Linked DNA regions of Homo sapiens. The protein of the gene in region 1 purifies or fractionates together with the protein of each later gene. This does not show direct contact. Each region holds a gene or a part of one and is shown in the gene's direction. Other genes may lie near its edges.

The links. Proteins that work in one complex are often made in the same cells at the same time.
Region 2: the proteins of LAP3 (region 1) and HADH fractionate together in Homo sapiens (co-fractionation; one large-scale study listed by BioGRID). This does not show direct contact.

What each region holds. Positions count from the first base shown.
Region 1 is NC_000004.12:17,583,698-17,587,197, forward strand, and holds part of LAP3 (cytosol aminopeptidase), read left to right. Parts: intron 1-1,274; coding exon 1,275-1,439; intron 1,440-2,544; exon of another isoform or gene 2,545-3,500. UniProt on the Homo sapiens protein: Cytosolic metallopeptidase that catalyzes the removal of unsubstituted N-terminal hydrophobic amino acids from various peptides.
Region 2 is NC_000004.12:108,024,389-108,027,888, forward strand, and holds part of HADH (hydroxyacyl-coenzyme A dehydrogenase, mitochondrial isoform 2 precursor), read left to right. Parts: intron 1-3,299; coding exon 3,300-3,372; intron 3,373-3,500. UniProt on the Homo sapiens protein: Mitochondrial fatty acid beta-oxidation enzyme that catalyzes the third step of the beta-oxidation cycle for medium and short-chain 3-hydroxy fatty acyl-CoAs (C4 to C10).

The sequences.
Region 1 (3,500 bases):
CTTTTGGGATATGAGCTGCCTGCTTTTCAGCGCCACCCACAGCTGCGTGGCTTGGCTGTGACCTCCCCATTGCCTCAGCCATTTTAATAATGTGGTCAAAATTAAGCCCAAGCTCTGCTCCTGGCTCTCGGCATATGTCTGATTCCCCCATGACTCCCTGACCCCTCCCTGCTCTGATTACAAGGAAGCCATAACCAGGTAGCTCTTACCTGAGAGGGAGGAATGACATGACAGACATATCCCACAGGTTTCAACCCAGATAATGTTCATTCATTTACCTGGCACCTGCTGGCCTTGTGCTAAATGCAAGCACCACACAGATGAAGAGATCCTCTGGATGCTTGGTCCTTGCCCTTGTGGGCTAGTGGGGTCCCTGCCATCAGGAATAAATAAGATGAGACCTTCAGCAGATGGTGCCAAGCACAGTGGGGGCCCTGGCACTGGCCAAGGGTTGGCAGCTGTGGGGAGTGGGGGAGAGTGCGGGCTCTGCAGCCAGTCAGCATGGGCTTAAGTCCTGGCTTCACCACTTACTCGTTGGGGGACCTTGCTGGTTACGTGGCTGAAATCTCTGTGCTTCATTTTCTGCATTTGTTTACTAGAGTTGTAATACCGATTTCATGGGGTTTGTATCATCATCCAAAAGAGCACATCAAGTAGGGGGCATGTGGCAGGCCTTCTAGGCCATCTACTGTTACTCACCCACCTCTGTGCTGCCATAGGAAGAGCCAGGGTTGTGAAACACGTGCCTGTATCCTTTCTCTTCTAAAGCTGGTCCTGCTTACGAATGGGTTGGAATTTGGAGCCCCGACTTAGGTAAAAGAAAGCAAAAAGGTCTTCAGTTGCCACGTTAGAGCCATTGCCATACGCTTGCTTTGCAGTTAGCACTTGGGGCTGCAGCATTCCTGATACAGTGAAGGAGAACAAAACGGGCTTTTCTGTGGAAGCCTCTTCTCTTCATTTATGTGGTAGATTTAGAGCTTCAAAGACCCCACAGCACAGGCCCTTTTTCATGTAGATGAGGATTCTGAAGGGAAGTGCCTGACCGGATACCCTCTGGTTCTGCTTTGTGTGGCCATGTTTTCTAGCTTTCTGCACCATACCATCTGCTGCCCTGGGTCAGATCACAAAAAATGAATCCAGGTCCTGTGTGCCAATTGTTTTTGATTTGTAGTCTTCCTCTTTTGTTTTCTGTAAGGTAAGAGTGTCTCTTAGTTGGCAGGCAGTCAGCGTTCTTGAGAGGTTGTTTGACAGTCACTTTATCTTTCTTCTGCCAGTGGGGATCAGGAGGCCTGGCAGAAAGGAGTCCTGTTTGCTTCTGGGCAGAACTTGGCACGCCAATTGATGGAGACGCCAGCCAATGAGATGACGCCAACCAGATTTGCTGAAATTATTGAGAAGAATCTCAAAAGTGCTAGTAGTAAAACCGAGGTCCATATCAGGTAATTCAGGATTGTGTCACAGACTCGAGATGTTACAGCCAGAAGGAGCCCTTGAGATCCTAAAATCCAGCTCCCTCACTTTTTAGAGGAATAACTTGAGACCAGAGATTTGAGATGACCCACTTGGGTCCACATGGGGAGCTGGAATAGAGCTGAGTTTGAGGTTCTTTCTATCTTTCCTTGCCTTTGAGAGAGAGAGTGCCATGATATACTATGTATGTGTATATTTCATAACTGTGTTATTCAGACACAATTAACATGCCATAGAATTCACCAATGCAAAGTGTGCAATTCAGTGATTTTTTTTTTTTTTTTTTTGAGACAAGGTTTTGCTCTGTTGCCCAGGCTGGAGGGCAGAGGCATGAACATGGGCTCAATTTCCTGGGCTCAGGCCTCCCACCCTAGCCTCCTCAATAGCTGGGATTACAGGTGTGTGCCACCATGCCCAGCTAATTTCTTAATTTTTTGTAGAGATGGGTCTCCCGCTGTGTTGCCCAGGCTGGTCTTACACTCCTGGGCTGAAGCAATCTCACCTTTTCCTCCTAAAGTGCTGAGATTACAGCCATGACCCCGCCATGCGGCCTGGTATTTAGAATATTCACAGAGTTGTGCTACCATGACCACAATCAATTTTAGAACATTTTCATAACCCCCAAAGGAAACCCTATACCCATTAGCAGTTACTCCCTGTTTCCCATTCCCTAAAGCCAGCAGGGGATGGACACTTTGGTTGTTTTTACCTTTTATTTCTTTTTGGTATATGCCTAGGAGTTGAATTGCTGAATCAAATCGTAGTTCTGTTTAACTTTTTGAGGAACTTCACATGGCTTATTTTGGTGAATTATTCCTATCATCACTTTTGGACACAAATGAAGAACACAGCATGCCTAACTAGACATGGGATGAGAATTTCTGCCTCATAGATTCCCTTAGCCTAGACTCCAGCATTGGTGCTCCCAGGTGTCCCTGAATGCTGTGTCAGTGGGAGGCTGTTGGAGCTGAAAGCCTGCTCGTCCAGTTCCGTCGCTCTCTTGGGATCTCCAGCCCTTTAAGCAAACCAACTCTGAGCATTTGGGAATTTATAATTAAAACAAATGAACAGGTATTTGTTTGACCTAAAGAATTCTTTATTGTCAAAGTTGTTTCCCAAGGGTACTTCCATTTAAAAGAATTCTTTAGTACTTAATTGTGATTAGAGTTCGTGTTTTTCAGGAAAGCATCTATGGTTTAGACAGAGTGAAGAAAAATTAATAGTCTGTAGAAAGCACAGTACTTAGAGCTTGATAAAATTTCTGGAATGGTTAGTATATGTTTAATCTATAGCAATGTTTAGGTTCTATAAAAGTATCTTTTTGGTCACCAAATAGTGGTTATGACAGCCCCTCTGGTGTGCCTGGAATTTATCATACAAAGATGCATGAAGTGGTCCTTGTCCTTGCAGAAAGTGAGGATGTTGTAAGAAGGAATAGGGAGGTAAATGGCATTTGCAGAGGGTACTGCAGGATCAGAGGGATGAGGGGGACTGCCAAAGAATATGAAGCTGCTGGTGCGATTGTGCACACCTCTATTTGCAGCTACTCAAGAGGCAGGCAGGAGGGTCTGTCAAGTCCAGAAGTTCAAGGCCAGCCTAGGGAACATAGCAAGACCCATCTCTAAAATAAAAATTTTAATAAGAATATGGAGTCTAGGCCAGGCATGGTGGCTCATGACTGTAATCCCAGCACTTTGGGAGGCTGAGGCAGGTGGATCACTTGAGGTCAGGAATTCAAGACCAGCCTGGCCAACATGGCGAAACACCATCTCTACTAAAAGTACAAAACTTAGCTGGGAGTGGTGGTGCGTGCCTGTGATCCCAGCTACTCGGGAAGCTGAGGCACAAGAATTGCTTGAATCTGGGAGATGGAGGTTGCAGTGAGCTGAGATCGCACCGCTGCACTCCAGCCTGGGCGACAGAGAGACACTGTGTCTCAAAAAAAGACTGGAGCCTAAGGAGAGTCCTGCAGGTTGCTTAGAAGTTACAGTACAAGAGAGTGGGGCAGGACAGTTCAGGTGAGGAAGCTG
Region 2 (3,500 bases), about 90 Mb from region 1:
ATTATAGTTCTCATAGCAAACTTTTGCTTTCTAAAATATTCTCGAGTTTGAACTTACAGTACTGTACTAACCCATGAAAAATCATGTTGTTCATGAATCACCTGAAGAAGCCATCTGTTGAGGTGGACTCCAGCAGCCAAAGAGAGCAGGCTTGTGTGTCCTGCTCCTCCCCGTCCATGGGTAAAGTGTTGTTAGGGAGTCTCATGCTTTAACACCCATTTTTTGTTTGTTTGGTTCTGTAGTTTTAAGTCATCTAGATTTCTAAACTCATATTAATAATTGGATGTTATGATTGTACTTTCTTACGCAGTTATGCTTTGTTAGTGGAAGAAAGTAGTAATGGTATTGAAAAGAACATCTGTGCAAGACAAAAAGATATGGAAACAGAAGTACAGGGAAAAGCTAATGATTATCTTCAGCAGCATAATAATTAATCTACAAAGTAATGATTCAGTCTTCCATCAGAGTGGCCACGGCAGCTGCAGAGATGGGAACTCTTTGTTCTCATTAAATTATCTTGTTAGGTCATTCCAGAACTCTCTCTGTGTGGTATTCTAAGGGCTTTCAGAGGGTCTTTCTGGGTCAGTTATTGAAGCTCTTTATGAGGCATCTGGACAATATATGGCAACTACATAGGACAAGGGTCAGCAAACTTCTGTAAAGGACCAGATAGTGAATATTTTCAGCCATACAGTCTCTGTTGCAAGTAGTCAGTTCTATTGTTGTAGCATGAAAACAGCCATAGACAGTATATGCAATATGAGTGTGGCTGTGCTCCAGTAAAACTTGACTTACAAAAACAGGCTGTGGGCTACAGTATTGTACTTTACCAATACTTGACATAGAAGAGGGGCATTAATGTGCCTGGAATGTGCCTTCCTAGTGAGACTTCATGAGGGGATTGTGGTATATAGGTTAAGGGTATGAACTAGCCCAACTGGGTTTAAATCCTGGTGCCGGCACTTATTAGCTGTGTAACCTTAGGCAAGCTACTTAACCTCGCTGTGCCTCAGTGTCCTCATGCTTCACATAAGGATAATTATAGTACCTCTGTCACAGGGTTATTATGAGGAATGAATAAATTAATATTTTTAAAGTATTTAGAACAGTACCTGGCACACAGTAAGTACAGTAAATAAAATGTGTTTAATAAATAATCTGAAAAATATGAATTTGATTACATAAAATAAAATTACTTTATTTAAAGATTGTGTCTCCTGCTAGGCACGGTGCCTCACGCCTATAATCCCAGCACTTCGGGAGGCCAAGGCTGGTGGATCACTTGAGCCCAGGAGTTCGAGACCAGCCTAGGCAACATGGCAAAAACCCTCTCTACAGAAAAATAGCTGGGCATGGTGGTGTGCACCTGTGGTCCCAGCTACTTGGGAGGCTGAGGTGGGAGGGTCGCTTGAGCCCAGGATGTGGAGGCTGCAGTGAGCTGAGATCATGCCACTGCACTCCAGCCTGGGCAACAGAGCAAGACCCTGCCAAGAGAAAAAAAAGACTGTGTCTTTTCACATTCCACCAATATACTGATAGCATCTGTCTCTCTGCATTCTCAATAGCATCAAATATTATTACAGTGGGGGAAAAACCTTTGATAATCTTGTTGGCAAAAATGCGTATTTTTTTGATTACTAGTGAGTTTATTTATTTATTTTTTTATTTTTCGAGATGGAGTCTTGCAGTGTCTCCCAGGTTGGATTGCAGTGGCGCAATCTCAGCTCACTGCAACCTCCATCTCCCGGGTTCAAGCGATTCTCCTGCCTCAGCCTTCTGAGTAGCTGGGACCACAGGCGCGTGCCACCACACCCGGCTAATTTTGTATTTTTAGTAGAGACAGGGTTTCACTGTGTTGGCCAGGCTGGTCTTGAACTCCTGACCTCATGATCCTCCCGCCTTGGCCTCCCAAAGTGCTGGGATTACAGGTGTGAGCCACTGCGACTGGCCAGTGAGTTTAAATATTTAATGAGTCTTGGCACTTTTTCCTTATTGAGCTCTATGAGCTTTTTCTGTAGAAGATATTAACTGTTGGAGCTTCATGTTCTCAGGTACCCTATCTTGAGTCTATAGTGAACCTTTTGAAGTTGAAAAGAGTATTTTTGCCTCAATTATAAAATCTGTATTGTTCCATAATCTTAATTAAGCTGATAAAACTTGTTTGTGCATCTTTGTGCTCATGTGGCAATAGATGGGGTTAGGGCTTGGTTTCAGTTTGCCTAGGGTTAAAGGAGGTTCACATCCTTTGTGTTACTGTCCAGTTTCCCCGCATGCAGTCAGGTTAGCTCTGTGAGGAGTGCCTGGTCATCTGTAATTCAGACATTAAGGAAGTACCTGGTGTGTGCTAGAAACAGAATGCAGAGTTCAGGCCAGGGTGAGGATTTCTGCCCTCAGGAAGATCACAGCCTTTTGACAAAAGAGGAGGCACCATTTGCCTAGTGGAAATCAGCTTCAACAAAAAAATCACCTGCTTTTCTCTACAAGTCCCCGGAAGAGATCAGTAGATAAAATCCAAATCCCACACCTGTCCTCCAGAGAGATGATTATTGTTAGTTACTGAGAAGGGAAATGGATGAAAGGCATATGTGGCACAGGGGTCACCGCAGGATGCAGAGGTCTTAGGGGGTGTGCCGTGAAAGGCCAGCTCTCTGTCAGAGGCTCTGCTCCTTTGTCGGAGCACGTGCCCTCAAGTCAGCTCCACTGCAGTGTGCGCTGGAACCTGAGAAGTTGCTGAGTAGCCGAGGAGTGGCTCCAAGGAGCCTGGAAAGCAGTCCTCCTTTGAGGACCATTCAAGGTGGAGTGTGACGTTTTGTCGATTCTTGAAAGGGAATTGGGAGGAAAGAGGAGGAATAAAGGGATGGGTGTAGGGCTGTGTGTACAGCATTTTATGTGTTTTCTGATTTATCTTCACAACTTTGAGACAAACTGTCACCCCCAGTTCACAGATGATGAAACAGATTCAGAGTGACAGAAGGACCAAGAGAGTATTCAAGATTGAACCCAAATCTGTCTCTCCCAAAGCCATGCTCTTCCAGGTCACACCTGTGCCTTGATCTGTCTTTATGTCAGGATCTGTGCAGTGGGGCATCTGGGTTTGAATGTTTTTTTAAGTACTATGATTGTTGGATAAATTGTCATATGAGATAGAAATAAGGCCATGCTGCAAATTTTGAAAATGTACAGCTTGATAAATGGGGGCAAACATGATCCAGGGTAAGAAGGGGCAATTTGGTGACTTCACAAAAGATACCATTTAATGAAAATTTACTAGTTTTTTGTTTTTCTGTCTCCCAAAACAGGACACTCCTGGGTTTATTGTGAACCGCCTCCTGGTTCCATACCTCATGGAAGCAATCAGGCTGTATGAACGAGGTATCCTTCTGACCCAGGCCAGGAGCAGCAGACCTCAGCTCCTGGCGCCACTGTCTGGAATTCTCAGTGTCTCTAGGAGGGGTCGGGCCGTGCACAATGGAGGAAGCAGTGTCTGTTTTCTAGCTTTG